Linked DNA regions of Homo sapiens: region 2 is linked to region 1. The links come from fine-mapping of genetic effects on gene expression. A gene starts in region 1. The other region holds a variant in brackets. All regions are shown on one strand. Distances are from middle to middle. Region 1 holds the start of POLB (DNA polymerase beta). Region 2 overlaps IKBKB (inhibitor of nuclear factor kappa B kinase subunit beta).

Region 1 (11,156 bases):
ACTGGAACCTCCGCCTCCCGGGTTCAAGTGATTCCCTTGCCTCAGCCTCCCGAGTAGCTGGGACTACAGGCGCGCCTTCTTGTATTTTAGTGGAGATGATGTTTCACCATGTTGGCCAGGATGGTCTCGATCTCCTGACCTCGTGATCCACCTGCCTTGGCCTCCCAAAGTGCGGGGATTACAGGAGTGAGCCACTGCGCCTGGCCTAATTTTCTACCTCCATATGGAACTTAAAAATCAGATGAGCTGACAGACCACCTAATATATGTCTAACTTTTTTTTTTTTTTTGAGATGGAGTTTTGCTCTTGTTGCCCAGGCTGGAGTGCAATGGCGCAATCTCGGCTCACCACAACCTCCGCCTCTGGGGTTCAAGCGATTCTCCTGCCTTAGCTTCCCAAGTTGCTGGGATTATAGGTACCCGCCACCATGCCTGGCTAATTTTTTGCATTTTTAGTAGAGACAGGGTTTCTCCATGTTGGCCAGGCTGGTCTCAAACTCTGACCTCAGGTGATCCACCCGCCTCAGCCTCCCAAAGAAAGCTAGGATTACAGGTGTGAACCAGCTAGGATTACAGGCGTGAACCACCACTCCCGGCCACTTTTTTTTTTTTTTTTTTTTTTTTTGAGACGGAGTCTCGCCCAGTCTGTCGCCCAGTCTGGAGTGCAGTGGCGTGATCTCAGCTCACTGTCACCTCCGCTTCCCAGGTTTAAGCAATCCTCCTACCTCAGCCTCCTGAGTAGCTGGGATTACAGGCATGCGCCACCACATCTGGCTAATTTTTTTGTATTTTTAGTACAGACAGGGTTTCACCATGTTGGCCAGGCTCATCCCGAACTCCTGACCTTGTGATCTGCCCACCTTGGCCTCCAAAAGTTCTGGGTTACAGGCGTGAGCCACCACGCCTGGCCTACGTCTAACTTTTAAAGTATCTTGAAAAGCTCCACATTTGAGAATAACTGAATTTAAACTCTATACGTCAAAGAGTATGATTTGTACTGAGTAACAAAGTGATTTGTTTTGATTTGTGCTGAGTAACAAAGTGATTTAAACTGTATACATAATACTCAAGGGATGGGGAGACCAGCTGTCTTTCTTTGGGAGTAAGTAGAAATCATCATTGGGCCCCCTTTTTTAAAATAGCTAGTTTTTAGAAATTGTTCATAACTTCCTCATAAAAATGTGCCACATGTGAATTATTAGACACCAGATCTGCTTATGGATACCTATGTTACTTTTTTTTTGAGATGGAGTCACCCAGGCTGGAGTGCAGTGGCGCCATCTTGACTCACTGTAGCCTCTGCCTCCCAGGTTCAAGCAATTATCCTGCCTTAGCCTCCTGAGTAGCTGGGATAACAGGTGTATGCTACCACACCTGGCTAATTTTGTGTATATATATATATATATATATATATTTTTTTTTTTTTTTTTTTTTTTTTGAGACGCAGTCTTGCTCTGTCTCCCAGACTGGAGTGCAGTGGCGCAATCTCGGCTCACTGCAAGCTCCGCCTCCCGGGTTCATGCCATTCTCCTGCCTCAGCCTCCTGAGTAGCTGGGACTACAGGCACCCGCCACCACGCCTGGCTAATTTTTTGCATTTTTAGTAAAGACGGGGTTTCACCATGTTAGCCAGGATGGTCTCGATCTCCTGACCTCGTGATCTGCCTGCCTTGGCCTCCCAAAGTGCTGGGATTACAGGCGTTAGCCACTGCGCCCAGCCAATTTTATATTTTTAGTAGAGACAGGTCTTCACCATGTTGGCCAGGCTGGTTTCCAACTCCTGACCTCAAATGATCCACCTGCCTCGGTCTCCCAAAGTGCTAGGATTACAGGCATGAGCCACCACACGCAGCCCTTGGATAGCTATTTTAAAATTCATAGTTTCAAACTGCATTCCCTTATGTCCCTATATCAATTTATTTTTTTTTAATGCAGATGGGATGTTGCTATGTTGCCCAGGTTGGTCTTGAACTCCTGGGTTCATGCCATCCACCCGCCTTGGCATCCCAAAGTGGTGGGATTACAGACGTGAGCCACTGTGCCTGGCCCCTACATCAGTTTTTAAAAATTGCTCCCGCCTTTCCACCCCCTAGTGCTGCTGGGCCTGCAGGTCTCTGTTCCACAGGATGGACTTTGTTAAAGTTGTTAAGAATAAGGCCTACTTTAAGAGATACCAAATGAAACTTAAAGATGACAAGATGGTAAAACTGATTACTATGCTCAGAAACGCTTGGTAATACAGGATAAAAATAAATACAACACACCCAAATAGAGGATGATAGTTCATATAACAAACAGAGATATCAATTGTCAGATTGCTTATGCCCGTATAGAGGGGGATATGATAGTCTGCGCAGCATATGCACACGAACTGCCAAAATATGGTGTGAAGGTTGGCCTGACAAATTATGCTGCAACATATTGTACTGGCCTGCTGCTGGCCCACAGGCTTCTCAATAGGTTTGGCATGGACAAGATCTATGAAGGCCAAGTGGAGGTGACTGGCGATAATACAATGTAGAAAGCATTGATGGTCAGCCAGGTGCTTTCACCTGCTATTTGGATGCAGGCCTTGCCAGAACTACCACTGGCAATAAAGTTTTTGGTGACCTGGATGGAGGCTTGTCTATCCCTCAAAGTACCAAATGATTCCCTGGTTATGATTCTGAAAGCAAGGAATTCAATGCAGAATTACACCAGAAGCACAACATAGGCCAGAATGTTGCAGATTACATGCACTACTTAATGGAAGATAAAGATGCTTACAAGAAACAGTTCTCTCAATACATAAAGAATAGCATAACTTCAGACATGATGAAGGAGATGAAAGCTCATGCTGCTATAGGAGAGAATCCAGTCTATGAAAAGAAGCTCAAGAAAGAAGTTAAAAAGAGGTGGAACCATCCCAAAATGTCCCTTGCTCAGAAGAAAGATCGCATAGCTCAAAAGAAGGCAAGCTTCCCCACGGCTCAGGAGGGGGCTGCAGAGAGCTAAACCAAACAATTTTCTACGAGGATTTTTCAGATAAAGACAATAAACTTATGGACAGAAAAAAAAAATTGTTCCCACTGCAGTTCAGCATAAAGCGGTGACCTGTAATTCTTGCCCACCTCCACACATATCCAGTTTGTTAATCTGGTGACAGATTGGATACACCCTGGGAGCTCGCTGACGGTATTCTGTCTATAATTTCAATGCAAAATGTAATTCAGAGTTGATGCTGATGAGAAGTGACAGTACAGCTAAGTCAAAAGCATAAACACTGGATAGTCTTTGGAACCTTGGATTTGCATTCTGTTATAGCACAAATAACCCTTTATATTTGGATTTGAACTTCTCTCTAAGCACATGACTGATGATGAATCTGAAAAGACATATTTATAAGTAAAGGAGCAGGCAAACACAGTTTATGGAGGGGATCATTTCAGGAAAGGCAAGTAGTTCCAGGTCATTGGCACTGTGAGGCAAAGCCTAAAAGGGAAGAAGAATCAGATGAAAGGCCTTTTGTATGCTATGATGTATTTGGGTTTTATCAAGGTAAAGAGAAAATATTATTTAATTATTTGACTGACAAGATCAGATAACTATTTTCAAAAGAATACTTTGGCCACAATCAACAGAAATGTCTACTGGGGTAGGGAGGAGCATGCAGGAGTGGTAGGGAATCACCTGCTTTTCCAGACTTATTTCCCACTCATACCATACCCGTTAAGCAAACTGAACATCTGACTTCCAGAAAACGTTATACCCTTCATGTCTCAATGCTTTGGCACATTTTATTTGTCTAGACTGCTGGCCCTCTCACTTATCCCGATGAGCTTCTTCAAACTAAACACCTCCTTTCTGAGACCTGCTGTGATCCAAATAGAATACAAAGTTGAATATCTCTGTAATTTTGAATCATCAAATGTATGGATGATAATACAATTATTTTACTTTACAGAGGAAGTCACAGAAGTAAGGAAAGGAGGGAGCACAATCAGCTCTGAACTGTGTGGAGTGGGAATGGAAGAAGGGAGCTGACTTGGGATAAAGACAGTATAGGGCTAAAAATGTGGAAAAAAGTCCAGTGATACACAGATTTGGAGTCACTGACATAAGTGGCATTTCAAAGTCAAGAATGGCAAGATTGCCAGGGAAACTACAGAAGTAAGAAAAGAGGGCTAAGGGCAGGCAGACTCCCCGGAACCACAGGTTAACTATCCCTTATCTGAAATGCCTGGGACCAGCATTGTTTCAGATTTTGAATTTTTTTCAGGGTTTGGAATATTTGCGTATACATAATAAGATATCTTAGGGATATGGGAGATACAAGTCTAAATACAAAATTCAGTCATATTTCTCACACACCTTACGCACATACCCTGAAGGTAATCTTATATAGTCGTTTTAATAATTTTGTGCATGAAACAAAGTTTTGACCATTTTGACTGCCACCTACTACATGAGATCGGATGTGGAATTTTCCACTTGTGTCATCATGTCGGCAATCATCCAGATTTTAGAGCATTTCAAATTTTCAGATTAGGGATGCTCAACCTATACCAACATTAAAAGGTAAGACAGAAGAAGAGATGAAAGACCAGAAAGAGTGCCATTACAGAAGTCAAGAGATATTCACAGCATGAGCCAGGGGTGAATGCCACAGAGAGTCCAATAAGATGAGACGTAGGTGAGCGGATTTTCAGAGCACTGGTAGGTCCAGGCAAGGACTGGGACTTCTTGAGTAAATGATTAGGTATTAAGAAGTCCAGGCAAGGAATGAAGATTTTTCAAGAAGATTCACCATAAAGTGAGAAAAGAGGGAAGGTGCTAGCTAGAGGGAAGTTAAGATTGTTTTGGTTTTGCTTTTAAGAGCTGAGGGACTTGCACATATTTATAGGCTAAGGAGAGCTGACACCGAGGCTGATGCCTGGAATCCCAGCACTCTGGGAGACCAAGGTGTGTGGACCATTTGAGTTTAGGAGTTGGAGATCAGCCTGGGCAACATAGCAAAACCCGGTCTCTACAAAAAAAAAAAGAAAAAAAAAGAAAGAAAAAAAAATTAGCTGGGTGTGGTGGCGTGCGCCTGTAGTAGTCCCAGCCACTCAGGAGGCTGAGATGGGAAGATCACTTGAGGCTGGAAGGTTGAAGCTGCAATGAGCCATGATCATACCACAGCGAGACCCCGTCTCAAATAAAAATAAATAAATAAATAAATATAGGCTAAGGAGTAGAAGCAGGTGGATGTGGAAAGAATGAATAGGATAAGGCCCCTGGTGAGATGAACAAGGACAGGATCCCATGAACAAGGAACAAGGATCAGGATCAGGATCCCACAGGATCAACTTTAGACCAACCAAAAGAAAAAATGTGATTCCTTGAACCACATATATTTCACAGTATGGACTTCATCCGCTGTCTTTCATTACGGTTAAAATTACACCGCATTTCTAGTAATTCATGTTTGATGATGACAAAATACGTATCAGGCTACAGCTATCTGCAATCAGAATTGGGAACTTATCTGAACTGATCCTATAACGCACTGCCCACATTCTTCAAGAAATAGTAAGGTACCAGCCTCGATTCTTGCTTTTTCCCGCTCTTGCAGATGGACCAAATATCCACTGGGCCCTCAGTCCTGTTAATTGCCACACTAAACAGGGTATCCCAGAACGTATGCTACCCGAGAATGCTGCACTGTCCCACCTGTAAGCATTGTACTTGTGGATAGCTTGGCTCACGTTCTTCTCAAAGTTTGCGAGTTCTGAAAGGCAACAGAAGGCTCGGGTGAACAAGAACCACGAGTAAACAAACGAGAACTGTTTTCTGGAAGGGGATATGGCAGCCTCTAAGAGACAGTGACCACCCGTTTCCTCCAAGGGCCAGACCAAAAGCAGCCCAAGCGATGGCCCAGGTGTAGCCGGCAGGACTGACAACCAGCCAGGGGCGCCGGAGGGAGATCCCCACGGAAGACGACCCGCTGCAAGGAACCTACCCTACCCACTGGACTGTCGGTGTGGGAGAGAAGGAAGGCAGGGGAAGAGGCTGGAAGGAAAGAAGAAAGCCAGCGGGGCCCGGCCCGGTGCTAACCTGTGAGCATGTCGGTGATTCCCCCGTTGAGAGTCTCCTGCGGCGCCTTCCGTTTGCTCATGGCGGCCTGCACCCGAGAACCCCAGAGTGTTCAGAACCAGGGACTAGAGCCCTCTCCCAGCTTGAAGGAGGTACCAGGACTTGGAGACGGGAGCAGGAGCAACCCAGCTCCGGCGCGACCGGCGGAACAATGGTTGCCCCCGATGGGGGGCGGGGCGCACGGCGCTTGTTGTGACGTCACGCGTCCTGGGCGGGGCGGGGCGGGGCTAGAGGGGCGAGCCCTCGGCAGGTGAGGAGAGAGAACTCGGAGGGTTCGTGGACTCGTGGACGTGGACACGGCGCGGGGGAAATAGGCACCTCAGAATGACAGCCCAGGGGCCTTCCTATGGGAAGACCTGGAGTTTTGACCTAAGATATTAAATCTGTTTTCTCAGTGTTTATCTGGAATCCTTTCCCTAGAAGGGGAAACGGGAGTGCGATCTTGATTCTGAAATACTTGCGCTGGTGGGGTAGCTTCCTGCACAAAAATGTGCACTGTAATAGCTACCCAATGCATGGCGCGTTTTGTACGTGGTTAGAGGCGACACTGGCGTCACACTGTCAAAACTTTCTCTAAGGATACCGGGCAGTCCACACTCCAGTGCAGCCCCTTACGTACTAGGGCGCTGCCGGAGCCCGGCGTGAACCATGCCGAGAACAGGAATCCTCCCGCACACGTGTTAGTACACCTGCCAACCAGTGTCAAAAGATATTTTATTTTTAATCCCCCTGCCTTTGCGGTAGGGACCAAATTAATGAAGAGACCACAAGAAAGGGAGAAGTGTTTCATCTAGATCATGAGCAATGGAACCCTAATTATAACATGATGACCTACATCTGAGAAATTTACAGTCTGCTTGAGAAATGGAAATGTCACATCAGCAATAGTTTATTTTACAAGCGTAACTCCTGGGTTCATATCGAACTGCAATTCCAGGCAATTGCTTTGTGCATCGAAAAATTAAAATTTATTACAAAATGATACGTAGTTGCTGTAGAGAAATCTGGAAAAATGTATAAAAGGAGAAAATTAAAATCAGTGATCTCACCCTACAGCTGAACTATTAATATTTTGGGACGTACACTTCTAGTCTTCTAACCCAGTCTATTAAAAATTCCCATTATTTTCCAATAAATATCATTAGTTTCTTTGATTAGCAAGGTTGTGGTGATTGTGTTTCCTTACAATATCAGTGTATATCTTAAGTTATGCTTATTGGAAATCTGTAATTCTTCTTTTTTTGAATTTCCTATTCATATCATTTACCATTTTCCTAATGGGGGTAGTTTGTTACTAATCTGGTAGATCTTTTCTATATATTACTACTTGCCCTTTTATGGATAGCTTTTGTAAAAATTTTGTACATATTTGTATTTTCCTCAATTTATTACTTGAGGAATAAAAGTTAAAAAAACTTTATGCCTGCAACTTAACTATCTGATTAGTTAAGCTGCAGTGAGCAGTGACCACTCTCATTTACTCTTTATACTCTCATTTACATATATGACTTGTCCTAGTTTTCCCTGTTCACACTTTTTTCTGTCCAATCTCTATTCCAGGTGATATTCAGATTATTTTGCTCTGAAGAATTATTCCTCCTTAAATAAAAATGTATTTACCTCTGAATTTTAAAAGTTACAAATGTAGGGAATTGTGGGATCAGTTTTACAAATTTTTTTGTTTTGAGACAGAGTTTCACTCTTGTCCCGCAGGCCAGAGTGCAATGGCACGATCTCGGCTCACTGCAACCTCTGCCTCCCGGGTTCAAGTGATTCTCCTGCCTCAGCCTCCCGAGTAGCTGGGATTACAGGATCCTGCCACCATGCCCAGCTAATTTTTGTATTTTTAGTAGAGATGGGGTTTCACCATGTTGGCCAGGCTGGTCTCAAACCCCTGACCTCAAGTGATCCACCCGCCTTGGCCTATTAAAGTGCTAGATTACAGGCGTGAGCCACTGCACCTAGCCCATTTTTACAAATACTATATTTTTAAAATTAGTGCCAGAGAAACCAAGGAAAATAATCCATTATCTGTCCTTATCGTCTTAGAACAACCGACATTTGATCTGCTTCACAAAGTTCTTCTTGAAATAACTTGCTTCAATTGGCTTCTAAGATTCCACATGCTCTGGGCTTCCTTTTTCCTCACTGGCCAGTCCTCAGCAGGGTGTGTGTGTGCGCACATGTGCGCCTGAGCACTGGTTCCCAGCTCCTCCTCCACTCTCCAGCCTTTATGGGAAATGGCTTCACACTTCAGTCTTCTAACCAGCTTTTCCAACTTGTCCAGTTTTACCTGTTTAAATGGCATGTCTAGCTTGAAAGTCTCCTAAACTCATAGTTCAAGTCTTGACCTCTCCCTTGAGTTCCAGTCTCATACATCAGGCTGTCTACTGGATAGCTCTAGTCCATAATAGGCATCTCAAAGATAAAATGTCCTAAAGAACTCCTGACTCTTGCCCCACCAGCTTCTCCTTAACTTTCCCCCATCTCAGTTAATAGCATTTTAATCCACCCTGCTATCAGGCCAAACCCATAAGAGTCATTTTTAATTGCTCTTTTCACACCCCACATCCCGTCTGCCAGCAGACCTTGTCTGTTCTGTCTCAGGAATATGTGCTGAACTGGATGACCTCTCATCCCGAGCTGCCACTGCCCTAGATCAAACTCCCATGACCTCCTGAACTGTTACCAAAGCCTCCTCAGTGGGCTTCCTGCTTCTGCTCTTGTCCTCTTATAGAATATTCCCCAAACAGAGGGTGATCTTTTTAGGATGTAGTATCAAAATATGTCCCTATTTATACACCCTCCCACTGCACTTAGGATAAAATCCAAGCTCCTGGCGGGGCGCAGTGGCTCACACCTGTAATTCCAGCACTTTGGGAGGCTGAGGCAGGCGGATCACCTGAGGTCAGGAGTTCAAGGTCAGCCTGGCCAACATGGTGAAACCCCATTTCTACTAAAAATACAAAAATTAGCCAGGCGTGGTGGTGGGCGCCTGTAATCCCAGCTACTTGGGAAGTTGAGGCAGGGAGGTTGAACCCTGGAGGTGGAGGTTGCAGTGAGCCAAGATCGGGCCACTGCACTCCAGCCTGGGCAACAAGAGTGAGTCTCCAAAAAAAAAAAAAAAAAAAAAAAAAAATCCAAGCTCCTTTTCATGGCCCACAAGGCCTTATGTGATCCACCTCCTGCCTGCTCTCCTACTGCATTTCTTGCCACTTTTCTCATTGTTTAGGACACACACACGCCCATATTTCATACATACATGTGCCTGCTCAGCATTGTCCCCTCATTGTATGGTTCTTTCCCTGGCTGCCTTCTTCTCATCATTCAGGTCCCAGCCTGGCAGTCACACCCTTGTCACGTTCCTGGACCAGGCCCAGGTTTTTACTTGTGTGTTTCCTTCACAGTACTAAGAAGGACTGGAAATATTCACACGTGGTTGCACATTATGCACTCCCTGCTCACTCCTCCTCCCACCAATGTGCAATGCCAGCTCCACGGGAGAAGGGACTTAATTTTTGTTTCCACGTAAGTACTCAATAAAGTTAATAACTTAAATTGCAGTTTTGCTGAAGTGTCAAACACGGCCACCTGTAATCCCAGCACTCTGGGAGGTGGAGGCAGGAGGATCGAGCCCAGGAGTTCAAGACCAGACTGGGCAACATGGCGAGACCCCATCTCTTTTACAAAAATAAGAAAAATGTACTGGGTGTGGTGGCACGAAGAGATGAAGCATGGGACTCTTGGACTCATTCAACCATCTCAGTAGAAGTCAGGAATAGAGATGGGATTATCCCAGAAAATTTGTGGAGGACCCTCTTGTCTAATGGCATTGAACTCCATGACATTACACAGGGGACCCACAAGATTTTTGAGAATGTTACATCAGCAGAGACAGCTTAGCCTGGAAGTGACAGAGACAGTGTGAAATGAGAAAAGGCTGTTGAAATCCAAACTGCTACGGGCAAGAAATGGGCTGATAGAGCTACTGGGCTGCAAACATGCGATCCTTCAAGAAAAAGCAAGAATGACTCCAAGGGCAGAGCCAGGGGCACAGAGGCAGAGGCCAGAGGAGCAGACAGAAGTGATGGATGCAGAGACACAGGCCTATGAGGTCACTGTGAGCACAGACTCAGAGGCCTATGGAGCCACCATGGGTACAGAGAGGCCCATGGTTCTGCTGTGAGCAGACACAAAGGTCTGCACAACTGTTGTGGGCCCAGTGGGCGGCACTTCAAGCTAGGGAATTATTTGCAGGCCTTGAATCCTAATGGAATTTTCTCTGCTAGATCAAAATTGGTTGGGAATGGTGACTTCTTTATCCCTTCCAATTTTCCCTTTCAGAATGAGAACATCTATCATATGCCTATTACATCATTTTAAATAAATTTATTTATCCAAATTCCAAAGTTATTTGGAAGCTGATAACCTGTAGTATCACAGGTCCACAGCCAGAGAAATTTAATCCTAAAATGAATCATGCACGGGGTCTCACCCACATCTGACTTAGATGATGAGATGCAGGACTTCTGAGCTAATATATAGATGCAAATTTGGTCTTAGTTCATGCTGTATGAGTTGAGACTTTGGGAGATGTTGGGAGGAATAAATGTCTTTTTCATGTAGGACAAATATGGATTTTGGGGTGCCAGAGGGTGGACTGTAGTGGGCTGAATGGTGGCCCCCAAGAAGATGTCCACATCATAATCTCCAGAGCCTGTGAACATTACCTCATATGGCAAACTGTGATTACATGAAACATCTTGAGACAAAGTGCTTACCCTGGATTTTTCAAATTGGCTCTAAATCCAATGGCAAGTATTCTTGTAAGAGATACACAGCAGAGATGTGACAGAGAAAGCGGCAGCAATATGACCCAGGGGCAGAGATGCAGTCACAAGCCAAGGATTGCCTAAAGCCAACAGAAGCTGGACGCCACCAGGGATAGAACCTCCCTAGAGCCTTCAGAAGAGGTGTGATCCTGTTCACACCTTTATTTCAGACTTCTGGCCTCCGGAACTGGGAGAGAATAAGTTTCTGTCAT
Region 2 (11,156 bases), 52 kb after region 1:
GCAACCCACGCCAGGCCAGTCATGTTAAACTTTCGATCTCTTCTTCCCTGGCTCGTTGGCTCTTTGCCACCTAAAAGACCAAGTCTAAAAGCCTCTGCCTCACTTCAGAGCCCTCTGTAATCTGGCCACATCCCACCTACTTCCAGACTGCCCTCTGAGAAGTCTCCACTTGACTACAACATGGCTTTATCTCTACACAGCTGCAGTTAGTAATGGGTGACTGTCAAAGGTTAGAAAAATAAGGAGAAAATCGAAGTGCTGTTGAGTTCCCCCATCTCTCATTGTGGGTGATGCCAAGGGCTGTGTTCATATCCTGCTGTGAGTGCCACTCCCAGGACATGCCTATCTCCAGGGAGAGCCACTCCAGCACGCCAAGCCCCATGGAAAGTTTCTTTTATTTTATTTATCTGTCTCTTTGTTCTGAGACAGGATTATCTTTTTTCTTGAGACTGAGTCTTGCTCTGTCACCCAGGCTGGCATGCAGTGGCACAATCATAGCTCACCGTAGCCTCAACCTCCCAGGCTTAAGCCATCCTCCCACCCCAGCCTCCAAAGTAGTAGGGACCACAAGCGCACACCACCACATCTGGCTAATTTTTCATTTTTTATTTTTTGAGGAGACAGGGCCTTGGTATGTTGCCCAGGCTGGTCTCAAACTCCTGGCCTCAAGCTATTCTCCTGTCTCAGCTTTCCAAAGTGGAAAAAAAAATTTTTTTTTAAGAGGCACAAGGGCCTGGAGGAACAGTGAGAACAGCACCTGAAGTGTGTCTGGGAATGGCCACTGAACAGGAATAAACGCCTGGGCTCCCGCCCCCACTATTGTGACCCTTCTGGAGTGAAGAGGTGCACTCGCAGAGCAACCGACCTCTTTTTCAATTAAAATAAAAATTGTTGTTGGCTGGGCGCAGTGGCTCACACCTGTAATCCCAGCACTTTGGGAGCCTGAGGTGGGTGATCATTTGAAGTCAGGAGTTGGAGACCAGCCTGGCTGATGTGGCGAAACCCTGCCTCTACTAAAAATACAAAAATTAGCCAGGCGTGGGGGCGGGCGCCTATAATCCCAGCTACTCGGGAGGGTGAGGCAGGAGAATCACGTGGACCCAGGAGATGGAGGTTACAGTGAGCCGAGATCACGCCACTGCACTCCAGCCTGGGCAATACAGCGAGACTCTTGTCTCAAAAAAAAAAATTATTTTGTTCAGAGCTTCCAGTTTTCATAATGTTATATGGCCTTATTCAGCCTCAGAGATGGAGAGGTGGCCTGCAGCTGGGTCTGTGTGGGCTGGGACCCAGGCTCTGCTGCTACAGCTGTGTGAGGCCCAACCTCTCTGGGCCATGACATCCACCCATCATGTGGGAACCATACCTGTGCACCCATGTGTGAGCTTTTGGAAATCGAATGAGGTAACATGTACTAGCAGGCTGTGTGGTACTGTCATAGGGAACAATGGGGAGGAGGGCACCCAACTGCCCCTGAGACCAGGAGGGGCTGCCATCCACCCACCAGAAGTGAACATTCTAGGGAAGAGGAGGTGGTGTGGTGAGAAGGTGGAGAATAGAGCCCCACAGATGAGTCCAGGTGGGTCAGGTGGATCGGATGGATTGGGGCGGGTCTGCAGCCCTGGCCCGGCTCTCTGATCATGAATCCTGCTCCCTCTCTGCTATGCTCCCTGCCCCCGTGTGTGGTGCTGTCCCATCTCTAGAATAAAATCCCTCCTAATAAGGAGAGCAGTGGCACTGGCACCAAAGGCCTAACGTGGCCCTAACATGCCCAGGGAGGAAGCATTTGTTTTGGAACTTGCCCAGTCCTTCCCCACGCCCAGACCTGTGATGAGTTTTCCTTGTCATTGGAGTAATCCCAGCAGAGTGTGCAGCACGCCCTTACCCCTTCCCTGGTGTTCTCGGAAGCGCCTCTGACTCACACACACACCAGCCCCAGGTGGGCAGGGAACAGAGGATCTGAGAGGCAAAGCAGCCCTGCTGGAGTCACTGGGGCTCCCCAAGCTTCCTGATGATGACAGAAGTGAAAGGTCTCCCCATCCCTCTTCCTGGTGTCCCACCTGCCCAGACAGGCTGTGCACCTGGCAGCCGTGGGAGCCTCACCTTCCGGAGATCTCCTCCTTGGCAGTACTCCATGGCCAGCAGGGGCAGGTCATTGGGCGCCAAGTTCTGCATCCCCTCAGGGACATCTCGGGCAGCCACCACATTGGGGTGGGTCAGCCTAGGAGGAGGAAAACCGATGAGAGCAGACCCAGGCTCCTGCCCAGACCCATCCCCACCACCCCCACCAGGTCTCAGCAACAAAGGCCCAGGATAACCCAGGGCTTTGAAACAGAGGAAGACAGAGCCCAGGACGGGTGGCCAACCGCAATGCCTGGGTCAGTGGCGCTCACCCAGCCCCACTCACAGCACCAGAACTCAGACCCTGAGGGCACAACTGCGTGTAACTTCAGTTTTTTGTGCGTGCCACATCCCAAGTCCTCATCGTGCTGCCAAACTGCTCCTACAAGGACCTTTCAATCTCATGCCCTCCACATGGGGAGGATGTGTCACACACGCAAGCAGGCAAACAAGGTGGTGCCTGCTCTTTTTGTTTTCATATTTTTTTTCTTTTGTCTGTTTAATTTTCGGCAGGTTGGTTCACGCACACACATCACCCCAAGGTGGACACACAGAGAAGGGTCTGAGAAGGAACTCATGTAACCAAATGGAACCATGACATAACCAAATAGCACCTCCTCTTTTTAAGAGGCTGGCAGAGGAGCCCCTGCTTGGTGTCCTCCTCACTGGCTCTTTCGGAGCCCACCTCACGCCTCACTAGCTAGGGGGTCAGCAGCCACCAGGCAGATGGACAGCCCCGTCTCCACACTAGAGGAATAAATGTCAGCGACAGCATGACAGCAGAGAACGGTCACATACCACCTTGGAACTGGAAATATAGGAGGAAAGAAGGCTTTTTTTGCTGACAAAAGAAAAGTCACTGTGATAACTGTGTTAACTTATTTAATACAATGAAATTGATGAACAGCCCTTGACAAGGCCCAGTGTGGACTTTAGCTGCTCTTCCTCTGGTGTCTTTAGAAGCAGCAGAGTCACCGTGGAGACTGCCAGGCTGGCGCCCTGATGGAGGGGCAGATATTTAAGACTCTCTTCTCTTTTTTTTAGACGGAGTCTCGCTCTGTTGCCCAGGCTGGAGTGCAGTGGCTTGATCTCGGCTCACTGCAAGCTCCGCCTCCTGGGTTCACGCCATTCTCCTGCCTCAGCCACCCGAGCGGCTGAGACTACAGCGCCCGCCACCATGCCCGGCTAATTTTTTGTATTTTTAGTAGAGACGGGGTTTCCTTGTCATTGGAGTAATCCCAGCAGAGTGTGCAGCATGCCCTTCCCCCTTCCCTGGTGTTCTCTGTAGCTGGGACTACAGGCGCCCACCCATGCCCGGCTAATTTTTTGTATTTTTAGTAGAGACGGGGTTTCACCATGTTAGCCAGGATGGTCTCAGTCTCCTGACCTCGTGATCTGCCCGCCTTGGCCTTCCAAAGTGCTAGGATTACAGGCGTGAGCCACGCACCCAGCAAGACTCTCCTTTCTAGACACACCGGGGGCTGCTGCTCCAGCTTTCCCTTGGGTCCCTATGCGCGAGGCCCTCACCTTCTCATGATCTGGATCTCCAGGCACCACCGCTCTCGGTTCCGGGGGCTGAGCTCCTGCCGGCACTGCTTGATGGCAATCTGCTCACCTGTTTCCTACAGAAACAGCACAGTGGGGACCAGCAGAGCGAGCTGCAGGCCAAATCCCACCCTGTCTGCTGCATGGGAGGGGTCTCCAGGCCCCAAGCGTTACCTGCAATCACCTCCTGGTGCTCCAAGGTCACATGTACACCCTGATCGACAGCCACGTAGCACCTGCCCTTTGGGCTGTCTCCTTACCACTCCACCTCTCACCCAACCTCTCCAGCCTCATTTCTTTCTCTCTCTTTTTTTTTTTTTGTTTGAGATGGAGTCTTGCTCTGTCGCCCAAGCTGAAGTGCACTGGCACAATCTCAGCTCACTGCAAACTCCACCTCCCGTGTTCAAGTGATTCTTGTGCCTCAGCCTCCTGAGTAGCTGGGATTACAGGCATGCGCAACCACACCTGGCAAATTTTTGTATTTTTAGTAGAGACGGGGTTTCACCATGTTGGTGAGGCTAGTCTTGAATTCCTGACCTCAAGTGATCTGCCCGCCTCGCACTCTCAATGTGCTGGGATTACAGACGTGAGCCACCGCACCCAGCCTCTCCCACCTCATTTCTATCCATCCAGAGTCTACAGAGCCTTCAAGGCCCTGCTCCATTCCCAGCTCCGCCATGAAACCTCTACTGACCATTCCTGCGCAGAGAGGTTTCCCTGTCCGAACCCCGGCTGCTGCTGTATTAGGCTGACCCATGGGACACTGCTGATAATTGACCACATTGACCTACAAAAATGGCACCTGCATGTGGTTCAACCTAATAGTGAACACCACATTGAGTGTCTTCATTGTTTCATGTGAGAGTTTTGTCCTTTCAGAGAGAACGCAAGCATAATATGGCATAATATAGCAGATGAAACACTGGCTGGTTCAAATTCCAACTGTGCCATTTACTAGCTGTGTGACCTTGGGTAAACCACTTGGTCTGACTCAGTTTCTTCTGTAAAATGGGAATACTGACACCCATCTTTCAGGGCTTGAAAACAAGCCTCTAGCAGGTATTAGTAACCCTGCAGAGCAGGGAACCCAGGTCATCCGAGTACTCCTGTTTAACATCCTACAGAGATTGGCTCCTATCTGCATTTCCAGCCACTCTTCCCACGACACTACAGCCAGACGGCCCCACCCACCCTGGCGCTTGGCCCTGCTCTGCTACACTTGCCAGCACAGGTGCATGGGCACCACGGTCTGCCGAGCTCAAGAGGGTCTCACCCTCTGCTATACTCCTGTAACAGGTAATTCCTTCAGTGCACATGCCAAAGAGTTACTTTCTGCAGAGTAACAGGCTGTTTTCTCTTCTCTTTGTTAAATTATAGACTTGTCCATCTTCATGGGCTTTAACCTCTATCGAGGTAACCAGCAGCATCCTCAGCGGTGGCTCCTCCACCTGGTGAATCATGAGCTGAGCCACTGGCTCCTGGCGGCCTCCCCTCTTCTCCCTGGTGCATGAGTGGGGACACTGGAGACGGGCAGGCCCTGAGGCTGTGGCACGGGCAGCAGGGAAAGCGGCTCTGGCCTCGGGCACTCCAGCTGCCACAAGGGAGTCACCACTGCACCACTGTCACCTCTTTTGGCTATGGGGGGGTCTCCAAGACAACTGCGGGGCAGCAGCTGCCCAAGGCAGCAGCTCCCGGAGCCCCAGCCTGAGAGCCGATCCTGCCACTGCTAAACAAGCTGACCTGCACCAACATCCTGCACCTCCTGTGTACCTACAGCACGAAACTCCCTACCCGCACACACACCTGGGCAAGAGCCACACCTGCAGGGTGGCACAGGGCACCCAGCAGTAGGAGAAGATTTCAGCATTGTACCAGACTCTACTGTGGCTCACTTGAAGGATGTCCTAGAGGCCCTGTTAGGCCAATTTCTGTTTTCTCAGTTTATGAAGATGCAAACTGAAAAGAATCATAAATCTTGTAAGTGAGCAACAGACATGGTACTGAATGGGACTTAAAAAGACACACAGATCAGCCTGGGCAACGTGGCAAAACCCCATCTCTACAAAAAAATGCATAAATTAGCCAGGTGTGGTGCCATGCACCTGTAGTCTTAGCCACTCAGGAGGCTGAGGTGGGAGGATTGCTTAAGCCCAAGAGGCAGAGGTTGCAGGAGATCTGGGCAACAGAGTAAGACCCTGTTTCAAAACAAAAACAAAAACAAAAACAAAAAAAGACACACAGAGGACTGTGGCAAGGCCTCCCAGTGTGGCTGTTCCCATGGCACTCAAGCCACCTCAGTCTCACAGTTACCAAACTGGCCAGGATCCCTGCAGGAACAAGGACCTTCAC[A/G]GCAAGAAAAGGAAAAATGGAAACCTCCACATACACCAGAAGCTGTCTAATAAGACCACTGAGTCACTGACCAATAAACCAATCCTTAACACCGACACCAAGAACCAAAAGCTTCAGAAAAAAAGGTGGAAATGGAACAGCAGACTCCATGCCAGAAAGGAGGTACTGTCAACACTTCTAAAATACTCTCAGAAGCTGCTTTCATCAAAGCCCAATACCACTTTGGCTAAGCTTTCCATCAGATGGTGACCTTGCATGCCTACTTTTTTTTAACAGCTCTATTGAGAATAATTCATGCACCATACAATTCATCCAATTAAATTACACAGTTCAATAGTTTCTGGCATACTCAAGAGTTGTGAGACCAAAACCACGGCACACTTTAGAACATGTCTGCCATCCCACAACAAAACTCCACACCCATCAGCAGCCACTCCCTACTCCCCGAGCCCCTCTAGTCCTAGGCAACCACCCACCTCTTTCTGTCTCTACGGATTAGCCTGTCCTGGACATTTCATATAAATGGAATCATATATCATGTGGCCTTTTGTGACAGGCTTCTTTCCCTGAGCACTGTTTCCAAGGCTCACCCATGGTGCAGCCACAGGCTTACGTCTGTGACTATGGGAGACCCCCTCAGTCCAGTCTGCGGCAGTAGGCATGGGCATCCAGGTTCTGCCCTAAGTATCCTTCTCATTCTCTTTGTCTAGTAGAACCCTGATCTTTGGCCTAGATTCTGAGGCGCTCTCTGAACAAGAGCTGACCTCTCTCAACAATTGTAAAACCTGTTGCTATTTTTTCTTTTTAGAGACAGGGTCTCACTCTGTTGCCCAGGCTGCAGTGCAGTGGAGTGATCATAGCTCACTGCTGCCTAAAACTCCTGGGCTCAAGCGATCCTCCCACCTCAGCTTCAAGTAGCTGGGATTACAAGCATGTGTCATTGTGTCCAGCTAATTTTTTTTATTTTTATTTTATTTTTGTAGAGACGGAGTCTCACTATGTTGCCCAGGCTGGTCTCAAACTCCTGGCCTCAAGTGGTCCTCCTACCTCAGCCTCTCTAAGCACTGGGATTACAGGCCTAAGCCCCTGCACCCGGCCACCTTGTTGCTATTAAACTGATTAGTACAGTGGTACAAACCATGGTGGACACAAGTCCATCTCAAGCTTTTCAAGAATTAGGGAATGTGTCAAAAGAATAACATTTCTGGCCAGCCACGGTGGCTCATGCCTGTAATCCCAGCACTTTGGGAGGCCCAGGCAGGTGGATCACCTGAGGTCAGGAGTTCGAGACCAGCCTGGCCAACATGGTGAAACCCCATCTCTACTAAAAATAAAAAATTAGCTGGGTGCAATGGTGGGTGCCTGTAATCCTAGCTACTCGGGAGACTGAGGCAGGAGAATCGCTTGAACCCTGGTGTCAGAGGTTGCAGTGAACCGAGATCGTGCCACTGCACTCCAGCCTGGGTGACAGAGTGAGACTCTGTCTCAAAAAAAAAAAAAAAAAAAAAAGAATAACGTTTCTTTAATTGATGTGCAGACCATGTTACACCTCCCTGTACCTCCCGATTCCTGGTCTGTTCTCAGGCTGACGTGAATTTGCTTTCAGGTTTCACTTCCCCACAGTGCTCAGACACATTTTTGCCCAGTTCTGTGGTAGCTTCATCCACAGCAGCTCTGCCTGACGATATCTGCTATGGCTTAAGTTCCACAGTTTTCCATAATTCAATGAAAGCCAATTCCTGTTGTAGCAGTATCACCTCGGTATTTTTTTTTTTTTTTTGAGACGGAGTCTCGCTTTGTTGCCCAGGCTGGAGTGCAGTGGCACGACCTCGGCTCACTGCAAGCTCCGCCTCCCGGGTTCACGCCATTCTCCTGCCTCAGCCTCCCTAGTAGCTGGGACTACAGGCACCCATCACCACGCCCGGCTAATTTTTTGTATTTTTAGTAGAGATGGGGTTTCACCATGTTAGCCACGATGGTCTCCATCTCCTGACCTCGTGATCCACCCGTCTCGGCCTCCCAAAGTGCTGGGATTACAGGTGTGAGCCACTGCGCCAGGACATCACCTCAGTATTAAGGGGCAATTCGGCCACAATGGCTCTGCATCCCAGGTGGGACTGATGGTTATAAAAGGACAAGTTTGGTCCCTTTTGTCTCTTGCCCTTTCGCCTTCACCCTATGATGATGCCTTGACCTTGGACTTCATAGCCTCTAGGACTATGAGAAATAAAATCATTATAAATTACCCATTCTCAGCTACTCTGTGATAGCAGCACTGAGCCGACTGAGACACTGCTACAGACACTTGCCTCCAGTTAGGCGGAGTTTGCAGAGGAGCTCAGACGTGGGGAACGCAGGGTTCCACAAACAGAGACCGATGGCCCCGCTGCAGCGTGAGGTGCCATTGCCAAGAGCATCTATCCACCTCCATCCACCCTGCAACATTTCCATGGACACTATTCCAAGCAATGGTTTAGCCAAAGAGACTGTAACTTATGGTTCGTTACCTTAGAATGACTGAGACTAAACCAAGATACTGAAAAATCTGCAGCAACGTAACTTCAATACACAGAAGAGGGCACTTGTTTTCTATTGCTGCCGTAATAAATTACCACAAACTTGGTGGCTTAAAATAACACACTTTATTTCCTTGCAGTTCTATCTGCTGAAGCCTGATGTGGGTCTCCCTGAGCTAAGATGTTGGTGGGGCTATGCTCCATCCAGAGGCTCTAGGGGAGAGTCTGTTTCCCTACTTTTCCTTCTGCATCTTCTAGAAGCGCCACTTTCTTCAGCTCGTAGCCCCTTAGCCCATCCGTGTGTCAGCCATGTCCCGCCATCTTCCTCACATGCATCGGCTGACCCTGGCTCTGCTGCCTCCTTCTCCCACGTTTAAGAACCCTTGGGATTACACTGGGACCCCCAGGGAAGCCAGGCCAATCTCTAAGGTCAGCTGATTAGAAAACTTAATTTCATCTGCAACCTTAATTTCCCTTTGCCATGCTGCCCCACCCAGTCATAGGTTCAGGGATTAGGATCCAGATTTCTTGGTGGGGTTGGGGGGGATTATTCTACCTATCATAAATGAAACAGGACAGATCATCAGATCCAAAAAATAGATTAGATGACTTAGTTTATTAAGTGATTTTAGGTAATCTGTCTAGCTACAAATTGGATAATTGCAGTCTTTTGCCCAACACAAACACTGGACCTGATACACAGCTGTCACTTGGCCCAACCCAGAATCAGGAGGAGATTCTGATACTGAAGACTTGATATTGGTCTTAAATATCCAAATGCAAACTAAAAAGACTGAACTCAGCAATGTGAACACTGAACAAGTCTTGAAATAACTGGGCATAGATACCAAAACTAACTTTCTACTCACAGACAGCTCAGCTTCGCCCTAGAGTTGAGGCGAAATCCTAACTCCCTGGGCCTAGGAAGGTCTGCGTAGATACAGACATACTTAAACTTTTCCTAACACAGTGGCCTTCATCTGCCTCTAGGAAGTATTCCGAAATATTCCCAGTTTTTCCATGAGTAATGTTTCATTTGAAACAGAAATGCAAACAGAATGACTTTGTTACTAAAAACATACCTGCTCTAGAAAGCAAAATTCAATTAAAACAGAAGCAGGCTACGATCACCGGTTCTGAAACCCCAGGGAGTTTGTTCTTCACTAGCAGTGGAACTCAAACACATGTAAGGTAAGAAGGATGGCTTACTTTATTTTTCCTGGAATCTACTGAGTCTTAGCTTAGTTCTGTGGAAACCCAGACTAGGCCTGCGCCATCTCAGTACCCAACTTCTGGTATATGAACTCCTCGTGAAGGACAAAACTTAAAACTGCTTTGTGGCTGGGCATGGTGGCTCACACCTATAATCCCAGCACTTTGGGAGACCAAGGCAGGTAGATCGCTAGAGCCCGGGGGTTTGAGACCAGCCTGGGCAATATGGCAAGACTCTGTCTCTACTAAAAATATTTTTAAAAACTAGCCAGGCATAGTAGTAGATGCCTGTAGTCCCAGCTACTTGGGAGGCTGAGGTGGGAGAATCTCCTGACCCTCGGAAGTCAAGGCTGGGCAATAGAGCGAGACCTGCGTTGAGCTGTGATCATGCTGCTGCACTCCAGCGTGGACTACTGGAGTGAGACCCTGTCTCAAAAAATAAACACACACAAAACAACAAAAAACTGGTCTGTATTTTGAGAAAACGGAGAAAGGGTCCCCTGTATGTCCAGATTGAATGTAGTGATTATGAAGGTCCTCAGAGTTTGCAATTCCTTGCCTTTGATGCATGTAAACATAAAACTTATATATAAGCATGTGTGTCATAAGGTGTAAAAAAGGCAGAGGGGGAGCACATCCTCAGACCAAAAGGTGCCTGGCAGATGCGAGCTGAAGACCCAGTCACAGGAGAAACAAAAGGGGCCCAGCTTCCTCAAGTTTGCCTCTTCCAGCGACTCAGGGGAAACTCACAGAGGCCAAGAGCCATGTTTAGACCCTTAGCGCAGAAAGCCCAGTGTCCCGTTATCATGGCAAGCATCCAACCAGGCCACTGTGGACATGGGGGCAATTAGTAAAAACCTCCTCCTCCTTCTCAGACCCCACCCCCTGAAATGAATGCTTCAGAAAGGAGGTGCAGGGCTGGGACCAGAGAGACTGGGCAGGAGGACCCAGGGCTGGGAGCCAAAAAGGTCCGGGATCCAGCTGCAGTTTCACCCCTGGCTCAGCAGGTAACTGGACAGACCCTGGGCCCCAGCATCGCCTGGTCTACGCTAAGAGGGCCATGACTTCTTCACCCTACTCCCTACAGTGCAGACCCCCAAGGGGCACAGTGGCCTGCCGCCTCACCCACAGAAGCCAGGCACTCGGGCTCAGGAGACAAGCAGGTCCAGGTGTAACTCCCTCCCCCACCGCCTGGTAAAGGTGCGATAGAAGCCCATGGTACAAGCATCTGGGTCCTCATCCATAAGATGGGGATGGCTCCATCCACTCCAGGGATGTCAGCTAAAATGAAACACAGCATCCGACCACAGGGAGCCGGGAATAAACGACCGCAGCCTCACTTCCTTTTCTGGCCCTGTGGAGATGCTGCTCTGCCCACCTGAGTCGGCTTCTGTCTTCTTGCCAGGCCCTCGA

Evidence for each region. PIP is the estimated chance that this variant, and not a neighbour inherited with it, causes the effect.
Region 2: its variant is fine-mapped to the expression of POLB in whole blood (TOPMed, PIP above 0.99).

Annotation. Positions count from the first base shown.
Region 1 is chr8:42,333,603-42,344,758 of GRCh38, reverse strand. It overlaps POLB (DNA polymerase beta), which reads right to left and starts at 6,265. Exons shown (of 14, transcript NM_002690.3): 1 at 6,074-6,265; 2 at 5,690-5,747. The coding sequence starts at 6,134. It also overlaps the pseudogene RPL5P23.
Region 2 is chr8:42,281,221-42,292,376 of GRCh38, reverse strand. IKBKB (inhibitor of nuclear factor kappa B kinase subunit beta) reads right to left here. Exons shown (of 22, transcript NM_001556.3): 3 at 3,649-3,743; 4 at 2,104-2,221. Among named protein-coding and RNA genes, the nearest start is that of IKBKB, 15 kb to the right of the region's middle. The variant A/G (reference allele first, on the strand shown) is at 6,016.